3 separate regions of the Homo sapiens genome follow, and all the other regions are linked to region 3. Evidence: fine-mapped expression QTL. A gene starts in region 3. Each other region holds a variant in brackets. All regions are shown on one strand. Distances are between the middles of the regions.

Evidence for each region.
Region 1: its variant is fine-mapped to the expression of DYNC1I2 in monocytes after triphosphate RNA (Kim-Hellmuth 2017, PIP 0.95).
Region 2: its variant is fine-mapped to the expression of DYNC1I2 in blood mononuclear cells (TOPMed, PIP 0.94).

The regions. Positions count from the first base shown.
Region 1 is chr2:172,040,364-172,050,955 of GRCh38, forward strand. All of the region lies in intron 1 of METAP1D (methionyl aminopeptidase type 1D, mitochondrial), which reads left to right. Among named protein-coding and RNA genes, the nearest start is that of DLX1, 40 kb to the right of the region's middle. The variant GTGTGTGTGTA/G (reference allele first, on the strand shown) is at 5,448.
Region 2 is chr2:171,725,341-171,735,932 of GRCh38, forward strand. DYNC1I2 (dynein cytoplasmic 1 intermediate chain 2) reads left to right here. Exons shown (of 18, transcript NM_001378.3): 8 at 278-373; 9 at 579-741; 10 at 854-953; 11 at 1,451-1,576; 12 at 2,481-2,627; 13 at 2,965-3,078; 14 at 3,377-3,510; 15 at 4,369-4,513. Among named protein-coding and RNA genes, the nearest start is that of DYNC1I2, 43 kb to the left of the region's middle. The variant C/G (reference allele first, on the strand shown) is at 4,801.
Region 3 is chr2:171,682,581-171,693,172 of GRCh38, forward strand. DYNC1I2 (dynein cytoplasmic 1 intermediate chain 2) reads left to right here and starts at 4,889. Exons shown (of 18, transcript NM_001378.3): 1 at 4,889-5,047; 2 at 7,567-7,683; 3 at 10,197-10,314. The coding sequence starts at 7,576. RefSeq lists an enhancer at 4,890-5,059.

The sequences.
Region 1 (10,592 bases), 360 kb after region 3:
AAAAATATTAAAAAGTCCGTTTTTTTCTGTCAACTATATGGCATAGTGATTTTCTTCCAGACTAGTAGGTGGAGTCGGAAGTAGTATTCTGAAACATGTGGAGGAAACTACATCAGGAGAGCATTTGCCCCAAGGGAGCAATAGTGAGAGGATTCCCCACACTCTCTTCGAAAATTTTAAGACATACTGCTACTCCCAGGGGGAGATCAAACTAAATACACAGCGTTTTAGGAACTAGAGATATACAGAGTCCTTGTTCAGCGGAGTGGCAGATTTGTTTTAAGTTTATTTTTGTTCAAAGTTTTTGATCTCTTTTACTGTTACAAGACTAGGGGAAATATCGTAATCGATTGTGCTATTTGCTTTGATACATTCAGGCCCTCTTTTTTTTTTTTTTTTTTGAGATGGAGTCTCGCTCTCTCTCCCAGGTTAGAGTGCAGTGGCACAACCTCGGCTCACTGCAGCCTCTGCCTCCCGGGTTCAAGCAATTTTCCTGCCTCAGCCTCCTGAGTAGCTGGGATTACAGGCGCACACCACCACGCCCGGCTAACTTGTGTATTTTTAGTAGAGACGCCCGGCTAACTTGTGTATTTTTAGTTTCACCATGATGGCCAGGATGGTCTCAATCTCTTGACCTTGTGATCCGCCCGCCTCGGCCTCCCAAAGTGCTGGGATTACAGGCGTGAGCCACCACACCTGGCCCATTCAGGCCCTCTTGTACCTGATAGCCACAGTATACAAGAACTGAAGGAGTCTGAGGCCCCCCAAAAGCATATTATATAAAGCAAAAACAAACAAACAAAAAACCCACTTAAGGCTGGATGCGGTGGCTCATTCCTGTAATCGCAGCACTTGGGGAGGACGAGGTGGGTGGACCATGAGGTCAGGAGTTCAAGACCAGCCTGGCCAATATGGTGAATCCCTGTCTCTACTAAAAATACAAAAATTAGCTGGGCGTGGTGGTGTGCACCTATAGTCCCAGCTACGTGGGAGGCTGAGGCATAAGAATCGCTTGAATCCAGGAGGCGGAGGTTTCAGTGAGCCGATATCGTGCCACTGCACTCCAGCCTGGGTGACAGCGCAAGACTCTGTATCAAAAAAAAAAAAAAAGAATCCACTTAAATGCTCATCATTGGTTAAATAAGGTGTTGTGTGACCTGTCCGTAAAGGAATTCATGAAACAACTAAAAAAGATCATGTAGATCTATATTGTTTTGTTAGAGACAGGACCCCTAACACTGAAGACTGGTTGCCCCCAACTCAAGCCAGATACATAATTCAAAACCAAACAAAACTAAGCTTTAAATAAGTAAATACAGAATAAGAATATAAAAACGTTTTAATTTCCTTACTCTAATTATTTTATATATATATATATATATATATATATATATATATATATATTTCATCCCCCAAAAGAAATGACCTAATATATATATAGTTTTTTTTTTTTTTAAGATGGAGTCTTACTCTGTTTCCCAGGCTGGAGTGCAGTGATGCCATGTCAACTCACTGCAACCTCCGCCTCCCACATTCAAGCAATTCTCCTGCCTCAGCCTCCCCAGTAGCTGGGATTACAGGTGCCCACCACTATGCCCAGCTAATTTTTGTATTTTTAGTAGAGATGGGGTTTCACCATGTTAGCCAGGCTTGTCTTGAACTCCTGCCCACAAGTGATCTACCTGCCTCGGCCTTCCAAAGTGCTGGGATTACAGGCATAAGCCACTGTGCCTGGCCAGAAATATATATTTTTTCATTTTAAAAAATATATGTATATATACATATGTATGTGTACATGTGTACACATATACATATGTATGTGTACATGTGTACACATATACATATGTATGTGTACATGTGTACACATATACATATGTATGTGTACATGTGTACACATATACATATATACATATATACATATGTATGTGTACATGTGTACATATATACATATATACATATGTATGTGTACATGTGTACATATATACATATATACATATGTATGTGTACATGTGTACATATATACATATATACATATATACATATGTATGTGTACATGTGTACATATATACATATGTATGTGTACATGCGTACATATATACATATATACATATGTGTGTGTACATGTGTACATATATACATATATACATATGTATGTGTACATGTGTACATATATACATATATGTGTGTATGTGTACATGTGCACATATATACATATATGTGTGTATGTGTACATGTGCACATATATACATATATGTGTGTATGTGTACACATATACATATGTGTGTATGTGTATATGTGTACACATATACGTGTGTATGTGTATATGTGTACACATATACGTGTGTGTGTGTATATGTGTACACATATACGTGTGTGTGTGTATATGTACACATATACGTGTGTGTGTATATGTACACATATACGTGTGTGTGTGTATATGTACACATATACGTGTGTGTGTATATGTACACATATACGTGTGTGTGTATATATGTACATATATGTGTATGTGTGTAAATATGTACATATATGTGTATGTGTACATATGTATACATATATGCGTACATGTGTATACACGTATGCGTACCTGTGTATATATATGCGTACATGTGCATACATATGTGTGCGTGTGTACACATATATGTGTATGTGTACACATATATGTGTATATGTGTACACGTGTACACATATATGTGTATATATATACGTGTGTGTGTACATATATTTACATACATATATATATATATATATATATTTTTTGGGATACAGGATCTCACTTTGTTCCCCAGGCTGGTCTCAAACTCCTGAGCTCAAGCAATCTTCCCATCTCAGCCTCCCAAGTAGCTGGGATTATAGGCACCCAGCTATGAGAAATATTTTAAATATCAGATCCTTACAAAAAAAATAGTATTCTTTTATTGGAACTTCACTTGGTTTGCACTTCCAACACCTGTTAGTTTATCCAGTCAGGCACTCCATATTTGGAAGGAAGGAGGATAATATTTGGGGAGAGGAAAGGTAAGAGAGGGGTGAGTTGGCAGTGATGGAAAGCAAAGTCAACCCCACTTGGTCACGACTCACTAACCTCCAATGGAGAAAGTGTGTGAGTCTGCATGTATGTTTGATTTTTGATACATGAAAGAACATAAAAATATGACATTAGACTATTATACTTCAATTTTTAAAACTTAAGTTTTTTAAAGAAAAGTACGTTTAATGTTTTACAAAAATTATTTTATTTATATTTAATAGCATTATATTCCATTATAAAAATTTCATTTATTGTAGCAACCAAGGAGTTAAAAAAAACCAAGGATAGACAAATAACAAGAAATGTACAAGGCCTGTATGGAGAAAACATTAGATCTCCAGTGATGGACATTTAAGAACACTGTAGGAAATGTGAAGGCATTTCTTATCTTAAAGAAGACGTTAAATATTTTAGAGTCAACTGGACATGGTGGCTCACGCCTGTAATTCCAGCACTGTGGGAGACCAAGGCAGGAGGATCACTTGAATCCAGGAGTTTGAGACTAGCCTGGGCAACATAGTGAGACCCTGTCTCTGCAAAATAAAAAAAAATATTGGGCATGGTGGCATGTGCCTGTAGTCCCAGCTACTTGGGAGGCTGAGGCAGGAGGATTGCTTGAGCCCAGGAAGTTAAAACTGCAGTGGGCTATGATTGCACCACTGCACTTCGTCTGGGTGACAGAGCAAGACCCTGTCCCCCCAAAAAATTATAGTCATATTGTCCTTAGATTAATCCATAAATTCAATGTAAACCCAATTTTGTGGCCAAAAACACTTTAAATATGGTGGAAATACAAAAAGCAAGCTGAAAAGATAGTTGAAACAGTGTAGTACACACATTTAATATTTGTAATTCACAGAATACTCTTAAAAATAAGTCAGGTGGGCTGGGCACGGTGGCTCACACCTGTAATCTCAGCACTTTGGGAGGCCGAGGCAGGTGGATCACGAGGTCATGAGATCAAGACCATCCTGGCAAACATGGTGAAACCCTGTCTCTCTTAAAAATACAAAAAAAAAAAAAAAAAAAAAACCCAAAACAAACAAAAAACCTAGCTGGGCGTGGTGGCATGCACCTGTAATCCCAGCTACTTAGGAGGCTGAGGCAGGAGAATCGCTTGAACCTGGGAGGCAGAGGTGGCAGTGAGCCGAGATCGTGCCACTGCACTCCAGCTTGGTGATAGAGCGAGACTCTGTCTAAAAAATAAAAATAAAATAAGTCAGGTGAAGAGGCTGGGCGTGGTGGCTCACGCCTATAATCCCAGCAATTTGGGAAGCCGAGGAGGGTGGATCACTTGAAGTCAGGAGTTCGAGACCAGCCTGGTCAACATGGCGAAACCCCATTTCTACTTAAAATACAAAATTAGCTGGTCGTGGTGGCACATGCCTGTAATCCCAGTTACTTGGGAAGCTGAGGCAGGAGAATTCTTGAACCTGGATGATGGAGGTCATGCCACTGCACTCCAGCCTGGGTGACAGAACGAGACTTTATCTCAAAAAAAATAAATAAATAAATAAATCAGGTGAAAAACAACCCAAGAGACCTAATAGGAGACTTCACAAAAGAGGATACAGAAATAAACAAAGGAAAATATCTTTAACCTCAGGAGTATCTGAAGAAAAATAAGTAAAAGTGAGATACAGTTTTTCATTTATCAGACTAACAGATTTTAACATTAAACTGTTGGTAAAGGTATAGGAAATAGGCATCATTAGGAAGACAAGTTGCAGTGTTTGTGAACAGTTTTGCAAATATGTTAAAGTTTGCATATTTCTTAACCCACAAATACTACTTTTACACATTTAAACTAAAAAGAAGTCATCACTTGTGCAACTGTACTTGTAAAAAACACATTATATAAAGCAAAAAAATCAAACCAAAACAAAAAGGACCTACCAAAATGCTCATCATTGTTTAAATAAGGTACTATGTGATCCCTTCGTATAAGGGAATGCTCCAAAACCACTAAAAAGGATCCTATATAAGCCGGGCGCGGTGGCTCACCCCTGTAATCCCAGCACTTTGAGAGGCCGAGGCGGGCAGATCACTTGAGGTTGGGAGTTCAAGACCAGCCTGACCAACATGGAGAAACCCCGTCTCTACTAAAAAATATAAAATTAGCCGGGCGTGGTGGCGCACGCCTCTAATCCCAGCTACTCGGTAGGCTGAGGCAGGAGAATCACTTGAGCCTGGGAGGTGGAGGTTGCGGTGAGCCGAGATTGTGCCATTGCACTCCAGCCTGGGCAACAAGAGTGAAACTCCGTCTCAGGAAAAAAAAAAAAAAAAAAAGGATCATTCATATATATGTGTGTGTGTGTGTGTGTGTGTGTGTGTGTGTATATATATGTGTATATATGTATATATGTGTGTATATATGTATATATGTGTATGTATATGTATATATGTGTGTGTGTGT[GTGTGTGTGTA/G]TATATATATATATATATATATATATATATATATATATATATATGACGGAATTCTTTAGTGGTGATTTGTGAGATTTTGGTGCACCTATGCTGCTGTGTATTTTTATACATACGATAAGCCTGACCCTACTCTTGGGGCTCAGCCTCATTTAGAGCTGGGCTTCCCAAATTTTATTTTTTTTTTCTGGAATCAAAAAAGTTTCAAAGATTGCCATGTAATGCTTTTTATTTTTTTTAATTACACTTTGGTATCTCAGAAATCTCTTTCTGTGAGTGTTTACTTCGATTCTGAAAATAGAGCTAGGGTCTTGAAGTGGTTTCTGAATAAATGATGAAACATATGTTCAAAGTCTGTAACTCTTCCTTCTCCTTAACCACATCCTAGATAATCCACTGATGGAAAGTGTCATTTGTGTGAATAGATTCTCTAGTTTTAGTTTTCAAGGACTTTTTTTTTCATTTTAGCTGTCTGGATGATTAATGTGACTAGGAAAATACTGTTGACCCATTTAAATCATGTCAGACAACATCCATTGCTCATCTACATAATGAAATACACACTGAACATTACAGCTTAAGTGTGGGAGGCAGTGAACTACAAAATAATGTTTTAGTCATTTAGATTATGAAATAAAATATAAGATATTAGGACTAACTATAGCATTAAATATTAAACTCTTCAAATGGTAATTGTCAGTAAAAACAACTTTTAAACCAAAACAACTAGTAGCATTTCTGCTTTAGTAGTTAATTAGAGGAAGTGGAGGTGGTTGCATGCAACAGTATTAATTTAAGAAAAGTCTTTATGTGAAAGTGTCTGTTAATATTACTTGACTATTATGGGACTTACTGTAAATAGTTGAGTTTTTCAGTTAATCAGTGGTTGTGAAATAATAGTTTTCTGACAAAATTAGAAAAATTTGTTTGACATTTTTATCATAGTTTCATTAAACGGTCTCCGCATAATTTTAAAGATAACTAATTTATAGCTGAAACTATTTCAATCAATGATCTAATAACAAAGATAAGCTTTGACAGCTTTAAAAATATTTAAATTTTGTAAGGACATCATTTGCACAGTGATTAAATAAATGCAAAATTTAAAGGTACTGAATTTAGGCTATCAGGTTTCCATGGTTACACCTTTCCAAGTTATTTTGTGTATTGTGTAAATAGGTCTGTGAGTCACTGGTAATTATTTGTTTTTTTGTTTGTTCTGTTGGTAATTCTGTGTTTAGCTGAATTTAATACAGTTCACACGGCGTGCTTTGGTTTATGTATATTTTAGTGTTTGTGATTGACAGTGATTGAGCATTTCTTATGGAGTGCTTGCCTTTTTTGTCATAAGTGATGTATGTTGGTAGTGCTTGAAATGTAAATAAGTTCTTCCTGTATCACTGTTTAATAAACAGGAATTTTTATGCAAAGAAGACTTCTTGATACATTTAAACAATAAGGTTTGTTGAGCTCTGAAATATTTCTGCTAAACAGATTGTGCACCAAGACAAATAGGTTTAAATTCTTACAAACTGAGGTTACCAAGGGCAACGTTAAAGTTTATGGCTAAGCACAGCATTGACTGAATGGTATTTAGTAACAGAATAAAAAAGGCTGAATTCTTTTTTTTTTTTGAGACAGGGTCTCACTTTGTTGCCCAGGCTGGAATGCAGTGGTGCAATCTCCACTCACTACAGCCTCAGCCTCCTGGGCTCAAGTCATCCTCCCACCTCAGTCTTCTGAGTAGCTGGGACTACAGGAGCATGCCACCACGCCTGGCTAATTTTTGTATTTTTCATAGAGATGCGGTTTCACCATGTTGCCCCAGGCTGGCCTTGAACTCCTGAGCTCAAAGGATCCGCACACCTCGGCCTCCCAAAGTGCTCAGATTATAGGCGTGAGCCACTGCGCTCAGCCAAAATAGCAGCATTCTGATCTAACTCTTAAAATTGTTTGTGATAGTACACTTTACAGGGAATGTCTTCAATGCAAAGTAGAATCTTCCTATAACATAATTTCTCCCATCCCACCCTTTGCACAAATTTAAGAAGTATTCTTATATGTTTAGAAAGATATGATTCTTGAAAAAAGCCAGGGCCTTTTATGGATGTAGGAAGGAATTTTCCTTAGACCTCACCATTAACCATCAGCATACTAGCAAGGGCCCAGCAGGAACTCTCAGGAAAACATCAAAATTAGGCTGTCCGTAATTCATCCTACTGAGTGTGAGCCTTCTCTCATACACTACAATCATGAAATGCTGTCCAGTTTGTAAAGTGTTTCTACATCTGCAGTCTCATTTGGGGTTCAGGTTGGCCCTGTGATGGAGTGAGGAGAGGCCCAGTGCTTTGGATGGTGTCACTTTTAAGTAGCAGCTCTGGGACCCAACCTAGGATCTCATGATTACTTTGTGAATTACTTGCTTTGTGGATTATCCAAGGCACATTTTAAAATTCAGGCTGGTTTCTACCTACTGATTAGTCCATTTTAGAGTGACCTCCTCCCACAGTCAGGTAACCAATGATAGTAATTACCATTTATTGAGTGCTTACCTTATGCCACTTTCGATATATCATGTCATACAATTATCATAGCAACCCTGTGAGGAAGGTATTATTATCCACATTAACAAATGAAGAAACTAAGGCTTAAAGAATTTAACTAACTTGTTTAAGTAAACCAATAGTACTCAGAGAAGGAAAACCAATTTAAACAAGAGCTCAAGTGAATATAAATAGGAAGGCATATCTTTTGGAGGAAATTCTCATGGTGCATTCACAAGCAAAATATAAAATTTTAAATTTCACACTGTTTCCTTCTTTTTTACCCCCAAATTGACTATACCTTATTAGGCATTGAAGAGTTGAGGTTTCTTTGTAACACTCCAGTAGAAGCATACTTCAAAAAGTGTCCCATCCCCTCAGACAATAAATATGTTTCAAATGTTTTACACATCAAATATTTTGGTATTGTGGCAATATTAAAAACTTTAAATATGAGATGATGAATTTGTCATTTTACTGTGTGAATAATCTTGGTGTTGGCTAAGGTTTTCAAGTAATGTGTTTTCAGATATGAGAAGCAAGCAGCCTGCTATATACAGATAAAGAGTACATGTTTTTTTGGTGGTTGGGGTGGTTTTAATTTTTAACGTTTTTAAATTTTTATTTTATTTTAACTTTTTTAAGGCAGGGTTTCGCTCTGTTGCCTAGGCTGAAGTGCAGCAGCGCAATCTTGGCTCACTGCAACCTCTGCCTCCTGGGCTCAAACGGTCTTCCCACCCCAACCTCCCAAGTAGCTGGGACTACAGTTGTGTGCCACCATGCCTGGCTAATGTTTGTATTTTTTGTAGAAACAAGGTTTCACCATGTTTCCCAGGCTGGTCTCAAATTCCTGGACTCAAGCGATTCACAGGCCTTAGTCTCCCAAAGTGCTGGGTTTATAGGCGTCAGCCTGGCTTAATTTTTAATCTTTAGTACAAAAAGTAACAGATAGTTGAACATTCATATCCTTAAATATATAAGTATATATATTTAAATAAATGTTTATTTATATTTATGTTTACTTATATACATATATTTACTTATATACATATTTATATTTATGTTTACTTATATACATATACACACACATACACATATATATGGGCCAAATTGTAAGCAGGCATCTATGGAGCTCCCCTTTTAAGCCTGTGCCATTTTAACACTTTGTACTTTTTGAATTAATACCAAAAACTGTCGAGTGAGTATTCATATGGTCAACCAGGTATACCTAGTAGAATTGAGTGTAAAATTATTTGGGCAACATAACTATACCAGTCCAAAAAGCTGCCTTCAGAAAATTTGGAGCTTTTGCTTTTACTAAAGAGGTTACTGTATACTTTCTCTTTATTTTTCTGGTTGAAAATAACTCCTTGATGAGTGATCTTGGCTTCTGTTGTCTTGAATCTGTGTACTCTCAACTGCAGAAGCTTGGAAATATATTGTTTTCCTGAAGCATTAGCTTTCTCATTTTAGGTAGTAATTATTGACCTATCTACCTACCGATTTACCACTCCTATTGACTGGTTACAGGGCAGAGACAAAACTCCTACAGTTGTCAAAATACCACGATAAGATTGATATTCAAATGTTTTCTTTCTATCCCATGCCTTTCACTTAGAGATGTACAGTGAAAATCTTCTCAGGAAGTTTAAGATGTAGGGTTTTTTGTTTTTTGTCTTATTTGTTTTTGATATTGATACTACAATTTTGGTCAAAGCTCTGAGCTATTTCATCCCAATGGTTTGCTTGTGTGGCAATAACTTTCAATGGCCCATTGAAAAGAAAAAAGGAAAGAAAGACATCCAGCAATATACCTAGGGCATGCTGTATCTAGAATTCAGTTGACACTATTGTAATATGAAGACTAAAATCATGCTCTTTTCAAATGCTTTAATGTAATTTAAAAATATATTAAAGCTGTGCTTTTGATCATAGATTATAAGCCCTCATATCTTCTGTTATTGGGCATTTTAATACAAAATAACTAATATTTTAAGTAGTATATGACAGTAGTATTTATGAATAGTCTGGAGGTTTTTTTAAGAATTAAAGAAGGATTTTGTTACTATATCAGTTTTTTTTTAAAAAACTCATGATGTTTTTATATAGACTTTCTCTAAAATTCAGTTCCATGTGTGATTCCTATGAAATTGCTCTTTCTGGTTCTGATTTGTGTGCTTTAATATAAAATCATTCTATTTTCCTCTTCTTTAACCAAAGTGTGTGAGGTAACAGGAATGTTTCTTTTGAGAGACTTTGGAAGGTTGAAATTTGCCAGATGTTCTGTGCTAACCTAGAAGTGTGCATTCCCTGGGTAGCAGGACTGTGTGAAATTCTTTCCTATAACTTTGACAGAGCATTTGGTTTTGGTTCATTTTAGTGTTGTGCTTCTACTCTGATGAGAGCTTGTCTTTTATTCTGTGTTTAAATGATATTAAGGCATCCAGAAAATCTGACAAAGAAAATGATATTTTGATGACATTTTTCACAGGGCTCAACTAGAATGAATTATTACATTTTAACCACGGCCCTAATAAACAGCTTCTTTATTTCCTCTGTAAGGATACAATATTTCTTTGTCCAAGAAGTTGCCTG
Region 2 (10,592 bases), 43 kb after region 3:
TTTATGTAGCTACAGAATTTAGGGTGGCTGTTGCTGAGGTACCACATAGGTATGTATAAAAACCAAGAGGTTCCACTTAACTATTTGATTATGTTGATAAAAATCCCTATTATTTGTACTTGTTCTGTCCGGTCAGTGGTTTACTTTTGCTTATATCTTGGGAGTTGTGATACCTTCTGAAATACTGTCTCAAAAGTTACCAGCTATTTTCATTAAAATAATTTATTATATCATTCTGTTTTTTTGTTTTTTTGTTTGTTTTTTTTTTTTTTTTCAGATGAAGAGGAAGATGATGATGTAGTGGCTCCTAAACCACCTATTGAACCTGAAGAAGAGAAAACTTTAAAGAAAGATGAGGAAAATGATAGTAAAGGTATCTTAAGGAATTAAACTTTAAAACATTTTGTTGATTTCTGTTAAGATTCCTTTTATTATGTATTAAAGTAGGATGAAATGCTGTAAATCAAATAAGTGAATCTGATTGAAAAATAATAACATACATTGATCCATACTGTGATAGTGAGTTGACGTGATTTGCCTGACATAAATCATACTTCAAAAAATTATTTATTTTCCAGCTCCCCCTCATGAGCTGACTGAAGAAGAAAAGCAACAAATCTTGCACTCTGAGGAATTTTTAAGTTTCTTTGACCATTCTACAAGAATTGTAGAAAGAGCTCTTTCTGAGCAGATTAACATCTTCTTTGACTATAGTGGGAGAGATTTGGAAGACAAAGAAGGGTAATGTTTAGTTGCTAAGATTTTTAGCTTCAATAATGTTAAATTACTTTAAGATTAAGAGTGATAAAAGTTATAACACCATCTTTTTGGGGGGTTTGGTCTTTTTTTGTAGAGAGATTCAAGCAGGTGCTAAACTGTCATTAAATCGACAATTTTTTGACGAACGTTGGTCAAAGCATCGGGTGGTTAGTTGTTTGGATTGGTCATCTCAGGTAAAATATAACAAAATAGGCCGCTCTTAACTCATTTTTAAAATTATAATTAGCAGGTCATTTTATTTTAATTATGGGAATTTTGTATAATAAATCAATATGTGTTATTTAAAATTAATGGATGATGGTTCTAATGTTAACATACTCATCTTATGTACTTTGGAAGAAAGATTAGAAGCATTATTTATATTTAAAATTCAGGACTTTATGATACAGGCCAGTTTTACTAATTTCAGTTGCTCACCAAATCCTTTGTGTAAAATTTGGACACATATTTTAATTAAATGTTTTAACATTAAAACATTTAAAATAATTAACTGTTCTAATTTAAAATTGTACTAATGTCCCAGTAGGCATAATGCTAGAGATGTCTCTCTTGATGAAATGTTAGGTATTTGTATTTGCAGAATAATAATCTGATAAAGACAAATAACTAGGATTATAAAACAGTTCTTATTATGCATAGCATTTCTTTTCTTCTTGATTCTTCTGAGCAGTATCCGGAGTTACTCGTGGCTTCCTATAACAACAATGAAGATGCCCCTCATGAGCCTGATGGTGTGGCCCTTGTATGGAATATGAAATACAAAAAAACTACCCCAGAGTATGTGTTTCACTGCCAGGTATGGTGGTCTTTTAACAGTCTTCGCCTCAAGTTTAAGAATTCATTGATGAATTAAGACAAGTGCCTTTTTTCTTTTCTTGTCAACATAATGATTTCATTGGATTGGCATTTTACTAAACCACTCCATATTTGCAAACAGATGTTAACAGAAAACTGAAGACTTCTCAGTTCAACATGATCTGCCTTTTGTAGCTTTTCTGACATCTCTTATAATGTTTAATCACACCTAAAGTCCTTTGCAGTTGTGATTTTCTGTTATGGTGATTGACTGTATAAAAGGAATCTTTTATAAAATGTCTTTCCTACAGGGAGTTTCCCAGGAACTTATTTGTGAATATACAATTAGATGGTTGGCCCACTGAATTACTTATACATGGCCTGAGGAATTGGAACTAGATGGTTTTAAGTAGAAACATATGGTTGAAGTAGAAAACAGATGCAGATTTTTAAAGCAGATTTAGTAGAAGGTTAGAATTTGCAAGCCTTTTCTGATTGCATAATTTAAAATCTTTTAATAGTGTCTTAATCTTGAGTAAACACTTAACTTGAATTAAACTAGCGTGTACTCTACTGTTAGATTACTGTCAGAGTCTAATGCAGGGCTAGTTATCTTTTTAATACTGTAGTTAACTGAAATAACTTTTTGCTTTCTTTGATAAATTAGTTAAACCTACTTAATAGTAAACAGCCATTGCATTGGACTTTTAAGCAAAAAATATCTTAAAGATATATTTTTATATTTCTGAAACAGTGAAAACTTTTAATTAATTTACTTAGTTGTTTTTATAACCTCTAATACCATACAATGAAGAAAGAAATGTTTCGGATAATAGATTGATTTTTAGAACTTGTCAGGCATTTTCCATTTGAATCTCAAGTATAAAAATCTTACTTATTTGCAGTCAGCTGTGATGTCTGCCACATTTGCAAAATTTCATCCAAATCTTGTTGTTGGTGGTACATATTCAGGCCAAATTGTGCTTTGGGATAACCGTAGCAATAAAAGAACTCCAGTGCAAAGAACTCCACTGTCAGCAGCTGCACACACAGTAAGTAAATAAGGTTATTTCCATTAGGCTTCTGTGCTCCTTCATCCTTAGCTATAATACTTAGTAGTGGCCATCAGAGTCATCTCAGAATGTGCTTCCTTTGGTGTATGAATTCCTCACCATTTAGCAACCAAGAATGAAGGCTATTTTTTTTTTTGGAGATTTATTAGAAACTCATCTCTCTTCTGCGACAACATTTTGTTAATAGCAAACTTCACATTAAGAATACCCACAAGTTATGAGACTCGATAATAAACAGAATGCTTATAATTAGACTAAAAATTTTGTTTTGCTTTTTGGTACAATAATCCCTGAAAACTTTTTTTAATATCTCTAGCACCCTGTATATTGTGTAAATGTTGTTGGAACACAAAATGCTCACAATCTGATTAGCATCTCTACTGATGGAAAAATTTGTTCATGGAGTCTGGACATGCTTTCCCATCCACAGGTGGGTTAAACTTGGGAAACTGAAATTTTGAGGCAAATGTTATGTTTTAAGTGTATGTGTACCTCAACTTATGTTTCTCATAAACTGTTTTATAGTAGTGTTACAACAGCTTATAAGCTGAAACGTGTTTAATATAAGTTTGTTTCATATATATATATTTTACTTTGAAACCTGCTTCATTTAATTTAGATTTATGTAAATAATAAAAGAATTGTTTACAATCAAAGACTAGAAGTTTTTCTACAGAAATTTAAAATTGCAAGTTTACAAACTAATTTTCTCAGGTTTTTCTATGTAGGATAGCATGGAGTTGGTTCATAAACAGTCAAAAGCAGTAGCTGTGACATCTATGTCCTTCCCTGTTGGAGATGTCAACAACTTTGTTGTTGGGAGTGAAGAAGGTTCTGTGTACACAGCATGCCGCCATGGCAGGTAAACCTAAACTGGAATTTGCAATAATTTAAAATTCCTCCTTTAATCCCATTGAAACAAATTGTCTTATTTAAGTAGAAATCTGTCGTAGATCTACTTGTTATTTGTGACAGATTTTTTGTGTTCAGGCACATAAAATTAAAACTTAATACCTTTTTGTATAAAAGATAATTTTGGATTCATGATGTGTTTAGATTTTGTGGGTTGTGGTTTTGTGTGTGTGCATGTACTCACGTAAGTTAGTGATAGGCAGGAACATTCAGTAGTTACAAATACAATATGCACATGCCAATATTGACCTATAGACTTATAAATGAGATTTTCAGCTGTTTCCCCTTTTGATTTATTTGGACTTTAAGCATTAGTTCATTCTCCTGATAATTGTACAGTAATGTCACATACATATTTTAAACTGAGTAATATTTCTCCTTCCGTTCTGTCTGTTTTGAAATTGTCTAGCTGTACCTTATTGCTTCCTTAAAAAAAAATTGAGTGTCCAGATTTCATCTCAAATATAGATCACCTTCACTTCAAAGCTTTTGTTTTAAAAGTAGCCCAGATTGTCTCTCTTAAATGTAGGGTATCTTTGTTTCTATTACACCACTTCAGATATTGGACTTTTGAGGTCTGTTGTCAACAGCATGATGTTTACAGTTCCAAAGGTACTTATTGCTTTAGTAGAGTTACCAAATGTGGATGGAATAACACTCAACAAAGTTAATTCTGATAAGTTATGAGCACAGAGTTAAGTCTGTCAAAATGAAGTCAAGGCCTGATATATAAACCTATAATAAAATGTGTATGTAATTGGTCTACTTATAGGAGACTTCTCTAACATTTTCACTTTTATGAAATTAGCAAAGCTGGAATCAGTGAGATGTTTGAGGGGCATCAAGGACCAATCACTGGCATCCATTGTCATGCAGCTGTTGGAGCAGTAGACTTCTCACATCTTTTTGTCACTTCATCGTTTGACTGGACAGTAAAGCTTTGGACAACTAAGGTATCTAAAATATAGATGTCTGCTATTTGCTCAGGTTTCTGACACAAGGTGGTGATCTAATACTACATAGGAATGATGAAAACCTTTTAAATCATAATTGTTTGCTAATAGATGAAGCCTGCTAGGAAGTTACACAGAGCATGAGTGAACTACTAGATGTTGTAATTTTTATAAAAATATGCTAACAAGTATGGTAACCCTACGCAGAATCAAGGACCAGTCTTCCCACCACTTCAGTCTTTTCGAGCATGTAACTGTTTACCCTGAACTGCACTGGGAAAAAAGCC[C/G]TGAGTATCTCGCATAGCACCTCATACAGTTGTCATTCAGCTCAGCACAAAAGCTATGCATTTGCTCTTTGGAGAGTTTTTAACAGGTTATTCATAACTACAGTGGCTCACAGAGTTGATGGGAAATAGGGAAAAGAGAGAGAGAAACTGATTTACAATAAGTCCTGTATAATATGGCTATATGTAGTAAACTGGAATCCTTAGGAAAGCATTGTGTAAAAGCATGGATGCATATATTTTTTGTTATTCTATGATAAGCAGTTTAAATCATTTATTTTGGTTTTAATAAACTTCAGTATTTTAAAAACCCATTCATGTGATAAAATGATTCTTGATCCTCCAGCAATTCCAGATAAATGTGACATTGTCTTGACCTGTTGAAAGTCTCAAGACAAATCCAAGTAGGCAACATTACCTCCTGTGATAGACTTGTAATTTCATTTAATCTCATTTTATAATTAAAGTGCCTTAACTTTGCTGTCTAGTTTTTCTGCGGTATTAACATTATTGCTGAGAAAATGCATACCCAGCATCTGATTCTATTTAAATTAAATTCTAAGGTGTTTTTTTTTCTGTTTCTATCTGCCTTATCCTAAATATTGACTTTTTAAATAATTCATCATGAGACAAAGTTTAGAGATCTTTGGTTCTTCAGTTTCTGTAAGAAAACCTAATGTAAGAGATGTTCTTCACTATTTTAGTGAACTCCTAGTTATTTATCAAGTGTTGGCCTTAGAAGTCTGGGATGAACTCATTATTCATTCTTGTCCTTTCTTGATGCCTCCTTTCTGTCTGATAATGAAACAGGTTAGAAAACTTTGCCTCTAAAAGCTTGCCTTTTAAAATTGAGCATTTTCAGGTTTGTCATTAGCAGATATAAAAATAGTGTTTACCTGAACTCTAATAAAGGAAACAGATGCTTAACACAGTGTCCAGCAAATAATAGGCACTTACCAATGTTTAGTTTCTCTTTTACCTCTTAATGGGGATCGGACAGAGCCTGAATACATTTAATAAGTCATCTCTTTCCTTTCTTGGATTGTTCTTGAATTTTTATTCTTCTAGTGAAATTTATACAGTGGGAAAAGGTAGAAGAAGATTCTCAAAGCTCACAAGCAAAGAAATGCGTAATCTAGCTAGCACAGGCTGAGCATCCCTAATCTGTAATGCTCCAGAATTCAAAACTCTTTGAGCGCAGGCATGACACTCAAAGGAAACATTCATTGGAGCATGGATTTTTGGATTAGAGATGTATAACCATAAGTATAACACAAATACAGCAGGTCATCAAATAGTGTGTTTTGTCATAAAATTGACAAGAAAAAACATTGGCCGGGCTCAGTGGCTCACTCCTGTAATCCCAGTGCTTTAGGAGGCCGAGGCAGAAGGATTACTTGAGCCCAGGAGTTCAAGACCAGTTTGGGTAACACAAGGAGACCCCATGTTTACAAAAAATTTAAAAATTAGCCATGCATGGTGGTGCGCACCTGTGGTCCTAGCTACTTGGGAGGCTGAGGTGGGAGGATTGCTCAACTGGCATGTCTAAATTGTCCCAGTCTGAATGAGTGTGGGTGTGTCTGAGTGTGCCCTGCGATAGAATAGCATCCTGTCCATGGTGGGTTCTTGTCTTGTGCTCTGACCAGCTGTGACCTTGAACTGGGAAAAGCAAGTTGGAAAATGAATGAATGAATACAAATTGTCGTAAAATAAAAATTTGTAAGATACATAGTAATCATACAAAGGCAAGACAGTTAAAGGATGCAGTATGAAACCGCTCAGTGAGCCTTCCGTCTTTGTCATTGTTTTAGAACTGCCTGGTGATAGGGTGTGCTCCTTACAATTTTCACTTTGCAAAACATTTATTCCTTGATTTAACCCACCACCTCTTCACCAAAAATTGGGTTAATAATTATCTTGTTTTTATGATTCTTTCTCAAATGTGACCGGGCAGGGTGGCTTACGCCTGTAATCTCAGCGCTTTGGGAGTCCAAGGCGGGTGGATCACCTGAGGTCAGGAGTTTGAGACCAGCCCAGCCAACATGGTGAAACCCCGTCTCACTGAAAATACAAAAATGAGCTGGGCATGGTAGCGGGCACCTGTATTCCTAGCTACTCGGGAGGCTGAGGCAGGAGAATCACTTGAACCCAGCAGGAGGTTGCAGCAAGCCGAGATTGTGCCATTGCACTACAGCCTGGGTGACGAGCAAAACTCCACCTGAAAAAGTAATGATAATCTTTCTAAATTGTATGTATAGCTCACATTTTATTTCAGTGCTTAATATTTGAAGTGTTTAGGGTCATTATTTAGAAATTTGATGATGTTTTTATCACCAGATAAATGCCACAGGGATTTAACTCTTGTTTGTATCAATTAGCCTGTGGTAAAACTGGTTTTGTTTTATGTTGTTTTGCTTAACGTCACAGTTTCCAAGAACCTATAAATGATGTTAAGTGAGGACTTACTGTATTCTAAAATCTGAAAAAGTCCAAAATCTCAAATGCTTCTGGTTCCAAGTATTTCAGATAAACCTATAAAACCAAAGCAAGATGCAGAATTGGTGAGATGAAGCCAACTATTTCTCCAAAGGCTTCATACAGCCATGTAAGTTGCTAGATTTTTAGATGTGCTTTCATCTTAGTAATCCCATGTATAGTCACAGGAGACACATTTTTGTTAGATTGTTGGCCAACTTCCTTTTCGGTAATTGAAAGTAATCTTTTTTTTAAAACTTTTATTTTACATTCGAAGGTACAGGTAAAGGATGTGTGGGTTTGTTATGCAGATTATTGTATCACCCAGGTATTAAGCCTACTATCCATTAGTTATTTTTCCTGAGCCTCTCCCTCCTCCCACGCTCACCCTTCGATAGGCCCCAGTATGAGTTGTTCTCCTCTATGTGTCTACATGTATGTTCATTGTTTAGCTCCCATTTATAAGTGAGAACATGTGGTATTTGGTTTTCTGTTCCTGCATTGGTTTGCTAAGGATAATGGCCTCCAGCTTCATCAGTGTCCCCACATAGGACATGATCTCATTCCTTCTTATGGCTTCGTAGTATTCTGTGGTGTATATGTACCACATTTTCTTTATCCCATCTACCATTAATTGGCATTTAGGCTGATTCCATGTCTTTGCTAGTGTCTTTATAATAGAGTGATTGATACTCCTTTGGGTATATACCCAGTAATGGGATTGCCTGGTCAAAAGGTATGTCTGTCTCTGGGTCTTTGAGGAATCACCACACTGTCTTCCATAATGGTTGATACTCCCACCAACAGTGTAAAAACGTTCCTTTTTCTCCACAACCTTGCCAGCATCTTTTTTTTTTTTTTTTTTTTTTTTTTTTTTGCTTTTTAATAATAGTCATTCTGACTGGTGTGAGATGGTATCTCATTGTGGTTTTGATTTGCATTTCTCTAATGATCAGTGATATATGTCTTCTTTTGAGAAATGTTTGTTCATGTCCTTTGCCCTCTTTCTAATGGGGTTGTTTTCTTGTAAATTTAAGTTCCTTATAGATGCCGGATATTAGATCTTCGTCAGATTCATAGATTGTAGAATTTTTCTCCCTTTCTGTAAGTTGTCTGTTTACTCAATAGTTTTTTTTGTTTTTTAGGGGTTTTTTTGTTTTTGTTTTTTGCTGTGTAGAAGCTCTTTAATTGGATCCCATTCGTCAAATTTTGCTTTTGTTGCAATTGCTTTGGGCCTCTTCATCATGAAATTTTTGCCCATGGCTATGTACTGAATGGTATTGTCTAGGTTTTCTTCTAAGTTTTTTGTAGTTTGGGGTTTTACATTTAAGTCTTTAATCCATCTTGAGTTAATTTTTGTATAAGATGTAAGGAAGGGGTCTAGTTTCAGTTTTCTACATATGGCTAGCCAGTTCTCCCAGCACCATTGTTAAACAGGGAATCTATTCCCCATTGCTTGTTTTTTTGTCAGGTTTGTCAAAGATGATGATTGTAGGTGTGCGGTCTTATTTCTGGGTTCCCTATTCTGTTCCCAGTCTGTGTGTGAAAGAATCTTTTATCTATTTCTAGTTTGTTTTTTACTCTCTCAGGGTGTCAGTTTGCCAGCATCCTTTGGCTTTAAATTTGAGGCTTCCATCCTTATATACGTTAATAATAGGATTTGAAAATAAAGAGTTCATCTTGACTAATCAAGGACAGAACTTATCTTGTGATAGCAGACTGATTGATACTTGCTTTTGTGGTACTACACAGCTAGTTGAGGGGCGGTTGATATTTTTATTCTTGTATTTTAATGTGTTTCAACATAGAAGTGCCTTCTGAATAAGAATGACAAGTGGGCATATCTCTTTCTTTGCCAATTAGGCTAGGCATTGCTTCCTTCCTTGGGCCTTATATAGAAGACTCATTTATTCATTCAATTGGGATACATGCCTCTCACCCTGCCCCCAACATCCCTCCAGTGTTACTGTACAAAGGATGGGCCACCATAGAACATGGTGTTTTTATAAATGCCTAAGGACCCTCTGAAACTTTATCAGAAGAATTACCCTTCATTCTAACTTTTCTGCACACAAGTAGTTCTACTCTGTGAAGGGTAGAGAAGAAACAGTCTGTTAAGTGAATACTTTTATATTTGGCCATACTGTGGCTCCAGTGTCAATTTACACTTCCTGGTTAATTGTGTTGCTGGTATTTATTTCTGCCCTGCTGAAAAACTGATAGAGCCTCTATGCTGTAATAATGACTGATGGGCAATGTTAATTAATAATGAATGGTAAAGAATAATAGGCAGTGTTTTTAAATAATCTCTCTTTAAACACCTTGTTCCAATTTCATTTTAAACTTTTAAACCAGAGTCTTCACACTCATGAATTTAACAGACTTTAAATGTTTTGCTTCTCTTCCTCTACTTTTTAAGTGCTCTTTGACTCCAGGAATTGAGTCCTCATAAATTGGAAGACTGAATCGTGAGATATTGCTGTACTTTTGTGTCCTTAAGATCTGGCTCTGCCCTGATAGCAAAACAAGATTTCTTCCTTTTCTCTCTTTCTATGATAAAAATCCCTGGGAATCTCAATTTGGCACAGCCTCAAATTTAGTTTAAAGCAATCTACTTCTACAGCTAGCCACTAATCTTCGCCTAGCCAGAGATTTATAATTCAGTCACATAGTTCTGGTTCATTGACTTGTTTTCATTACTTTATTGAACTCAACTATTTTTAAGACAGGCTGAGCACCCTAATCTGAAAATTCAAAGTCTGAAATGCTCCAGAATTCAAAACTTTTTGACCACTAATGTGACACTCAAAGGAAATGTTCATTGAAGCATTTCACATTTCATATTAGGAACGCTCAACCATAAGTATAATGCAGGTATTCAAAAATCCAAAAATATTTGAAATCTGAAACACTTCTGGTTCCAAGCATTTCTGATAAGGGATATTCAACCTGTATAGAAGACAAACAGATTATTTTCCGTGTATGGAAGTTTAAACCAGTAAAGACAGGGCTTCTAATATATTTAAAAGACTCTGTTGCCATCTCAAAATACCAAATTTTAAATTCACAACCGAAGCACTTTGGCAGGTCTGAAAAATGGCTGGGAGAATAAGGAGTGAAAGCTTCTGCAGGGTAACAAGGATTCTAGAAGAGTTTGATTATGGGTAGACCTGGTAGATTCACTAAATGTTCTACCACATTTAACCATACTTGTTACAGATTACTGTTAAAACATAAGAATTATTTACTTGGGACAAGATGGATTTTGAGATGTGTGCACAAATTCTTATCAGAACCATATTTACCATAAAATGACGAAG
Region 3 (10,592 bases):
TTTTTGAGTGCATTATCAGTAACTTTAAGAAGCCATCATTATCTCCTCTCTCTTAACCACATAATAGGGGGTAGGAAAGTGAGAGTGCAGTATATACACCATGCTGAGTAGAAGGAACTTGCCTTGAATTTTTGAGCCCCTCAGCCTATTTTCTGTAATGCTCAGTGGCGAATCACTCTTAAGTGCTCCATCATTCACTAGGATATGTGCTTCATGCCAAAGGTTACCAGATTACAAAAGTATTCTAGGCTCAGAAGGGACTCATAATTCACCATCACCTTATTTTGACACTAACAGAGAAAATATGTGCATCAAGACAAGTAGAGGAAATAATGAAAAAAAAAACCTATATTAAGTTAACAATGCAGCAAACACTCCAAAGGGAAAAATACAGACTAGAACAATAATAAGGATAATAGAAAAGTAATGCTGTTAAATTATCAGAGACCTGCTGGTCAGCTCATGAACACTCCCCTGAGTGAAGATAGTTTCCTAAAGAGCTTCTCTTAGACATGAGAGCAAATGGGAAAGTTAAGAGAGTTTCCAAAGTTGGAAGAAAATATTTTCTCATGCCAATGTTTCTAAGAGTCAAATACATTTACTGAAGGTGAAGTGGAAATATTTAGAAAAAAATTAAAAACACAAGTGACTCAGGAAGAGCTGTTAACATGTGAAGAATGAACAATCTCAAGATTCCACAGGCAATCTGGTAGAAACCTCATGAACTTAACCAAAGTGAAATCTTAGAGGACCTCTGATTAAAATGTGGAAAAAATAATAACAATCCAATATTTATGAAAAGGTCCTGGAAAATGTTCTTTGCATGGTAAGAAGGTCACACAAATGTATGTATTAGATTTTATACATGTCATTTTAGCAAAGTTATAAACCAATCAAGTGACATTTACGCAAGAGCATTAAAAATATAATTACTAGAAAGCTTCATGCATTGCTATGGGGCCACAGCTTTCTTTTCACAACATAATTTCATTAAAAACTTGTATGATGAGGATGTATATAACAAGGTTGTCAACAAATGGCTATAAATGTTCTAGCTGATTACTTGGGACTTACTAGAGTTCCTGGAATATTTTGAGATGCCTGAACTGCTGGGTAGCAGAATACATTTTTAACCCCTTCAAATTCCTTCCTCTTCCAATTTGGTGTCTGCTACATCTTTTTGATGTTTTATACATTTGTTTAAGTCCCATGGTTTAATAGCTACTTTTTTCTTAACTATTTTTTGAATATAACATACATACAATAAAAAGGACCCATGTTAAGAGTAGAGGTCAATGAATGTTTTACAGATATGTAAATGTGTGTAACCCCCACCAGATGAAGAAATGAAACATTCCCAGCACCGCAGAAACCTCCCCATATCCCTTGCCATCAATATCCCTATACCTCAATAGCCACTATTCTGACATTTCATTAGATTAGTTTTACCTTCTTTTGCATTCTATATAAATGAAATCCTGCATTATGTCAATATATTAATTGTATTAAAATTTTGCAAACATTGGCATATTGAATTCAAGTGTAAATCCAGATATGAGTTTGTTCAACAAATTCATCTGTATATATTATATTTCTACCCTCTCCTACAAACCATTATAAGAAGTTTTAAAATGCAAATTCTCCCCTTCGAAAACACCCTGCAGCACTAATGCTTATTAGGACTCCTCCCCAGCCCTTCCAACTTAAAAAGTAGGAAGACATAGTGGTTTGAACTATGTAATGTCCAGGGTACAGTCTTTCTAATCAGTGCTGCTAATGCATTTCTTCAAAAAAGTGTTAAAAATAAAACAACAAAAAAGTGGGGGGTTTTTTAGTTACGTATTTCATATCTTAAAACATTTTTTTAAATTTTATTTATTTATTTAAGCAATAGGATGTCACTCTGTCACCCAGGCTGGAGTGCAATGGTGTGATTATAGTTCACTGCAGCCTCAAATTCCTGGATTCAAGCAAACCTCCCGCCCTTAGCCTCCCAAGTCGCTGGGCCTACAGGTGAGTACCATCATATTTAGCTAATTTTAAAATTTTTTACAGAAATGGGGTTTTGCCATCTTGCCCAGGCTGGTCTCGAACTCCTGGGCTCAAGTGATCCTCCCACCTTGGCCTCCCAAAGTGCTGGGATTATAGGCATGAGCCACTGTACCCACTCAAAAGCTACATTATCCAGCCAGTATATTGAGTGGTTTTCAGTGGGAAGAGGTATCTAGTCTGCTTTATTGCTGTAGAAGTCTCACATAATGTTAACATTTCTCCAATCCATCTACTTTTCTTAATTCTCACTGATGATGCATCAGTTCATGCATTTATAATTGCTGGCTCTACCCAAATTCTTCCAGTTGCATTCCCTGCTTCCAGTCTCTACCTTACCTCTTTCTCCACCTCTCATCCCTCTAGGCAAGCTGTATCAACAAGGGTCTCAACAAGAAACAGAATTCACAAGATAGTTCACATGAAAATACTTTAATGAAAGGACAAGTTACAGAGGGGTGAGCGGGTATTAAGGGAACAAACGAGATGATGAGGCACTCAGAGACTAGCTACAGAGGAGGTGTTCAAGAGATAAAAGGAGAACATAAAATCACCAGACAGCCCGGGGAAAACTAGAGCCATGGTGAAAGAGCCATCTGGCAGGTACTGTAGTCATGAAGGAATGAAGCTATTGCTGGACATCTGACACTCAAAGAAGGAAGGAGCAAGGAAGAGATGCCCCAATTTCCCTTTCTACCCACCTTCTGATATCCTTGCCTTGGCCTTCTTTATGTCCAACCACAAAGCAGTCCTTAAAGAAACTGAGGTCAACCCTCAGAGGCATAGAGCTTAGCAAAGAAGGGCAGGAAATGAATCTGGGGGGCAAAGAAAATAACCAGCACATTAGTCTTTCTCCGGACTACTTTGAAAGGCCAGTCATCTAAAATGCAAACCTTCTCATACCTTGCACCCTCTTAAAATCTACCAGTGGATTCACATCATCTGTAGGACTAAATCTAAACTGGGATGTGCGACTTTGCCCCTGCTTATGGCTTCATTCCCCAGTTCCTGTCTTAGCCTACGGCCATTGTGAATTATTTCCAAATTCACCAGCATTCTATGCTCTCACACCTCTGTCCTTTGTCCATATTCTTTTCTCTTCCCAAGGCACCTTTCTGCATCTTCTCTGCTTGGCTAACTTCTTCTACTCAACCTTTGAGAATCAAAGACTTAGCTCTAGAATCACCTCCTTCCAAAAGTTTCCTGAAAAGTTTTTCCAGGTGTTTCTATGACTTCCTTATATAATTCCATCATTATACAGATGCTCCTTGAGTTATGTCCTGATAAACCCATTTTAAGTCAAAAATATATGTTGAAAATGCATTTTACTCTAATAAGCCCATTGTAATGAGAAAAAAATCATAAGTTAAACCATCAGTCAGGAACCATCCATTCTTAGTTGAGCGAGTGTCCTTTCTCCCTTGAGAAGAAGGATGTGCATTTTTGTGCATTTTTATGTTTTTTGTTTTTTTTGTTTCTTTTTCTTTTTTTTTTTTTTGAGGCAGGGTCTTGCTCTGTCTCCCAGGCTGGAATGCAATTGTGTAATCTCAGCTCACTATAACCTCCGCCTCCTGGGCGCAAGCCATCCTCCTGCCTCAGCCTCGTGACTAGCTAGGACTACAGGCGCATGCCACACACCCTGCTAATTTTTCTATTTTTTGTAGAGACGGGGTTTCACCATGTTGCCCAGGCTGGTCTCTAAGTCCTGAGCTCAGGTGATCTGCCTGCCTCGGCCTCCCAAAGTGCTGGGATTACAGGTGTGAGCCACTGCGCCTGGTCCATTTTAGCTGTTACCACAACACCCATCACCATTGCTGGCACATGGTAGGCAATCAATAATAATTTTTTTTCAAATTAATACATGAAAACTATTAGGAAAGAAGTAAAAAAATAACATAGCTATAAAGCTCTTTGAATGTTAGGTTATTGGGAAAAGCTGTGGAAAGCCAAGGATTTTCTTTCTCAAATTTATTTTTAGAATATTTTTTTCTACACAAAAGACCACAGATAAGGCAGAGAAAGATAAGAAAAAGACCACAAGCCCAAGGACTTGGAATTTGAATCATAAAGGTTCATTCTAGACTTGGGCAATATCTAGAACTTCTAGAACAATCAGTTTTCTAGAACATAGAAAAGATATTACCTTGGTGTTAGCTTTAACTCCTGCCAAATAATGCTTTAAATTATTTAAACTTTAAAAAGGTGTGTCAATGTATACATTGCAGGTAAATTCATGTTCCAGTAACTTTTGTTTTCTTTGTATGTTAAAAATCTAACTGTGGAAAACATTCTAGCTTGGTTTGAGAGTCCAATAATACAAAATGCTTTATTTCCTAAAATTGTTTGAGAGAAAACCAAAATGCTACCACACTGCAACAAAATACTAAAGAATTATTTGCTATGTCAGTTGACATATTTTTATTTAGATTTTGCCTAAGATGCCACATGAAGCCTATATAAGACATTCTTTCCCTAAAACTTACATATGTATGTACATATATATATATAATGTTTTACATCCTAAACAGTCTACTTCACGTCTTCACCAAATGTGCAGCAGCGTGATTCACAGGTTCACCACTGGAAAATAGACCTTAAAATTCCGCCAATATTGGGTCAAAGATCTTACACTATAACACATACTACACTGTGGGCACGGATCAACAGACGAGAATACTTTATACAGAAGCTTCTCGACGGAAGAAGGCCTTGGAGTGGGAAATCTAAAGGAGGGGACACACTACATGTCCCAGCACACCTTGCGACGCCCAGCGACCACAATTCCCAGAACGCACTGCTCGTCGCACGCAGGTTTTCCTTGTTGCCGGGGTTTGTAGTTCTTCTCGATCGTGTCAGTTTGTAAGGCGAGGGCGGAAGTTGGATTCCTGGCCTGAGAATATTAGGCGTAGTTTTCCAGTTTTTGGCAAAGCGGAAATACTTAAGGCCCCTGGGTTGACTGGGTTCTTTGTTTTATCTACCGGCTTCTGCTTTACGACAGGTAAGTCACGGAGGGGCTACAATTCCTCGCAGCAGGGCCCCACCTTTTATTTCTGGGAGCGACCTCGTTCTGGTGAGGCTATTTGTCCCTAAGCTCTCGCCGTAGCAGCCGCCGCCCATCCCTCTTTGTGTGCTTTGGAAAGCCGCGGAGCTGGTGGTGGCTACAGTTGGTGTTGGGGGCTTAGGCGAGGGACGTTACCGGGAAGTTGCAGGCGGGAGGACTCTTCCCCATCCAGTCACCTGACAGGTGGGTTGACTGTTCTTCCCTCAAGGCCTCCCTGCCTGTGTTCCACGTCGCAACTCGAAGGGCGGCTTGGCAGTTCCTGCTGACATCCCCGCCCGGCCCAGCTTTGGGGAGGAAAGGCGGGGAGACCTGGGTGCGGTGACTCATTGCGGCCCGGCGAGAGGAGTCCACTCCTTTCCCTTCTCGACCCTCCAGAGGCGGCCTGGGGAGCCTTGAGGCTTGTCCGGCGCCCACTGGCTTCTTCCGGACGCCCTGCCGTGGACCGCGCCCTCTTGGCCGTGACCCCAGGGGAGAAAGTGATTCGTTTTCGCCTTGCCCCATTTTACAAATTAAGGCCATCTCTACTTGCCTTGATAGTGTCTCCCCTCACCTTATGTGTGATGGAAAGCCCCCGAACACGGAGGTTCTAGCACAAAACTCTAGAGACTCTCTTCTCTTGAGTTTTAAGAACGTGAACATGTCGGTCATGGAGGAAGGCTCTGGCTTCTGTGAGGATGAGAGGATTGGTCAGCTGTAGTTCAGCTGGTCAAGACTTTGTTGTTGGGCTTTAAAAATGCGCTTATTTTAATATCAATTAGTGTTGGTATATCTGTTTTACAGTTGACGTTGAACAAAATATAATGTGCCTAGCGTAGCATACAGTTACGTATGGAAGTTCTCTTCACCAGCCGTTTGTATGGAGCTGTTTAGAGGTGTAGAAAGAGTGGAATAAGAAACACGGTCTCTTGCTTTTAGTTTGTTCAAACAAATCTTGGAAGATATTGTGTATATATTTCAGGTCTGCTATGTCAACTTTTCATCCTTTTCGTATGCTTGAAAATTATCAATTCGCTTGCCAGTCTTAATGGAGTTTAGTAGCTGAAATTTCCTTTATCCACTTCTTAGTAGGTGAATTTCTCCTCTTGACTGACTTACCTTTGTTCAGATTTAACAATTGTGCTTTTTAAGAGATTTCCCCTAACCTCTGGAAATACAGTTTTCCAGAGGTTATTCTCCTAGTTTTCTTGATCTAAAGCATTTAATACTTCACTTGTACAGAGACATTGAAAGAGATTGATCATTAGGCAATAAGTCAATCATGTGGAGAAGGTAAGGAGTTCCTGGCTCCTGCCTTATGCTCAGCTGCTAGGCTACTTAAAAAAAAAAAATCCTAATTCATTATTTCTTCCTAAAACTCAAGCTGAAGTAGTGTTTATGCAATTGGTTTTTGAAGCTCAGATTGTAATTGTGTCTACCGTATCCATTATTCATTAGCCAGTGTCAATTGTAATGTTAAGGTCATTCTGCTGGATGTTGTGAAGGCAACAAAAATAACTAAAAAACAGTCCCTGATTTCAAGTACATTACAATCTAATAGGGAACATTTCAGGTATGTCCACAAATAATTGTACTAAAAGTGCCATCAGAGGTATACGTAAGGTGTTATTGTGGAGAAATACAGTCATATGATTTGATAGCTAATGATGGTAACTCCTGCGTTTTGCTTTAGTATTACTACAGCACTTTTAGAACTTACAGGAAAGTTCAGTTTGACCTATTGTTTTTTATCAAGTTTCTATGAATGCAATAGAATTGGTAATAGTTTTGATCTGTGTCATATAGCTTAAGAGCTTCTAAATGCCAAACCATGTCCTCTGTTTTAAGAGCCAGTTTTGACCTTTATCTTGGGTACCTAATATATTGTCATCAAAAACTTTGAGACATTGTGTTCAGTTTGTGTATGCGAACATTAAAGTGCTTACTATGGGCTAGCTACTATGCTCAGCTCTAGGTAATATTTATTATATATATTTGTTTATACATTTTTTAAGTCTTAGTAATAATATATATGCTTCCTTTATTTTATCTTTTAAAAGTTTATTTTTTAGAGACGCTCTGTTGCCCAAGCTGGAGTGCAGTGGCATGATCACGGCTCACTGCAGCCTTGACTTCCTGGGCTCCAGCAATCCTTCCAAGTAGTTGGGACTACAGGCACATGCCACCATGCCGCCTAATTTTTTATTTTTCTTGCCTTTTTTTTTTTTTTTTTTTTTTTTGTAGAGATGGGGTCTTGCTTTGTTGCCCAGGCTGGTCTCAAACTCATGGCCTGAAGCAGTTCTCCCACTTTAGCCTCCCAAAGTAAGCTACTGCCCAGCCCCATTATTTTAAAAGTAAGGTTTTTGTGCTTTTTTGAGATAGCATTGAACTATATGGCCTTTCGGGACAGTTCTCTTCTTGGAACACTAGTTTTTTCAACTGTGCTGCTTTTACTAACATAATGATTATATGTTTCTAAGGTCACAAACATGTCAGACAAAAGTGAATTAAAGGCTGAGTTGGAACGTAAGAAGCAGCGACTGGCCCAAATCAGAGAGGAAAAGAAGAGAAAAGAAGAAGAAAGGAAAAAAAAAGAAGTATGTTTGATTTTTTTGCTTAAATAAACAACATAAAGTAATTGGGTTTTATTTCACATATTTATATATTTACATATAGGTTGGTGCAAAAGTAATCGTGGTTAAAAGTAATGGCAAAAATTATGATTGCTTTTGCACAAACCTAATAATTTCAGGATAGTTAAAAATCTAGCAGTTCTGACTGCAGACATAACACTGTAAGTGAATCTTACTTTAAAGAAGCAAGATATGTGAAAATGACAAAACTGATAAAATATGATTTTTAAAAACAATTTCGTATAGATTGATGCATTTCTAAAATTTGATTTATTAAAGTTCAATTTACAATTTAGTCTCCTAGGAATATATTTATTATAAAGTAAGGCGCATCTGTATTTTTTTTTGTTTTGGGTTTTTTTTTTTTTTTTTGAGACTGGGTCTCACTGTGTCACTCGGACTGGAGTGCAGTGGTTTGAGCACAACTCACTGCAGCCTCAACCTCCCCTGACTCAGGTGATCCTTCCACTTCAGCCTCTGGAGTAGCTGGGCCTACAGGCACATGTCACTATGCTAGGCTAATTTTTGTATTTTTTTGTAGAGACGAGGTTTTGCCATGTTACCCAGGCTGGTCTCGAACTCCTGAACTCAAACAGTCCTCCTGCCTAGGCTTCCCGAAGTGTTGGGATTACAGGCACGAGCCACCACACTCAGTCAAGATGTCTATATTATAATAACTCATAAATATGGTGTATATATATCATAACTTAGTTTGGACTTTGAATTTATCTGAATATTTTGCTAGTCTGAATTGCTAATTTGTCAGAATGGATAATATTAATGGCAAATAAAATATATGTAATAGATGATTTAATTGACTAAGGGATTTGTTCTTATCTCTTATGAGTTAGTCATTGAAATATTTTTACTGAGTAGTAGGTTTGATGGTACCATAAAGGTGGACCAGGTACTTCTTTTGATTTTTTGTATCAAAAATATGCATCACATTATATACAGCAAATGTACATTGGCCCTGAGCTGGAGACATTTTACTTGTTCATGCATTGAAATATACTTTTATCCCTATGGAAACTCTTTAGACATATCAGTGTACTTTTACTACAGATATGTTTTAAATACCTAGTGTAAGGTAGTTTTTCTTGTGTGTCTTTAGGACCAAGTTTTTATATGTGGTAGCCTAAATAATGGCCAAGACTGCCAGAAATCTCTTGGGGACTAAGAGAAAAATAAGTAGTAGAAAAGTTGAAGGTACAATTTATGTGCAGCATTACTATGATGCTGTAAAGGCCTGTAATTGAAGAATTTGCTAGTTTATTCTGAACCTTTCTGTGAGACATTATAAGAGGATTGGAGCTTTACATTAGCTATTAGATTAAAAGCTGACTGGTAGAAGCATGATTCAGGTTGGCAGAGCTATTCCAAAATAATATTTATATCCCTAAACATTTCCGTGCTGAGAGCAAATTTCATTTTTGTTTTCTAATGATGGCCATAACTGGCAAAAATGGGTTCTAAGGGATATCTATTGCATGATTTATACCTAATTTAAAGCTTGTAAAACTTATTGAGTCACACAGACCAATGGGAAAAAACAAAGTTTATAAAAATGTTACAAGAGATAATACAATGGTATTAAACTGTGAGTCTATTAATATATTTTTATCAACAGTGAAGCATCAGCTTGATATTACAACCTGTTTTGTTATTTTGATTAATTTTTCTGATGACTTTTAAGTCAAAATGGCATAGAATATTATGGCTAACAAAATTCACTCCAGACAGTGTCTGAGTAATAGTTGTCTAGGTGGCATAGGGATTTGAGATTTACATAAAAAAAACTTTTCCTTGGAAAGCTTACATTTTACTTGAGAAGTCTTGGATGATCTGAGAGTATTGAGGTTTATCTAGTTTAACCAGCAGATTGTGCTAAAACGATAAATAGCCGAGATAAAAGCTGACAAAAATTTTCATAACAAAATGTTTTGTGCTATGCAAAAGTGAGTTTAATTTTACAAAACACAATCCCAAATAAAATGAAGACTTTATACAGAAGTTTGTGATACTCTTTTTCAACAAATCATATTGTCATTCACTTAAAATTTGTTACCTCTTAAATAATTACACTTTAATTTTTTCATTGTATGTGATATTGTATCTAACCTTTTGTGCCACTTGGGGGAAGTTGTCTATTATTCCTGACCATAGACAGCAATTTCATACTGTAGATAATTCGAAGTTGACTGTACTTCTTGAATTTGTCTGTTAGGAAAATTTTTGTGGAAACTCCTTGATTACATATGAAGATAGAGCAGTTTAGTACATATCATTTGAAGGTTATTTACTAGAACTCTATTGAGAATGATTTTCATTTAATGACTATAAAAAGAACTTAACCTGTACTCAAAACTAAGTTCATGCCTTAAAAGTATACAGTGTTAGCATATTATTTAAAACATTTTTGCAAACAAATTTTTCATACTATATGTAAACATAAGTTTTTAACCTAAACATTTTAGACAGACCAGAAGAAGGAAGCTGTTGCTCCTGTGCAAGAAGAATCAGATCTTGAAAAAAAAAGGAGAGAAGCTGAAGCATTGCTTCAAAGCATGGGGCTAACTCCAGAATCCCCCATTGGTAAGGTTAAGAATATATCCATTTATAAGAGATAGGCATAGATTCTGTTCAGCTCAGACATAGCTGAGTGGATTGACTTGATATATTTTACATATTTTCCTTGTGTCTCTAAAATTATTAATCTTTTATTTGGAATTGTCTTTTTTTCAGATATGCTAGTACATGGTTATTTTATTTGTTCAAAAGAGCTGCAAGAGTAATTATTAACATATACTGAACTACCAATTGACTTCTCTTATTAAATCAGTAATTTATTTCAACAAACATTGGTTAAGCAA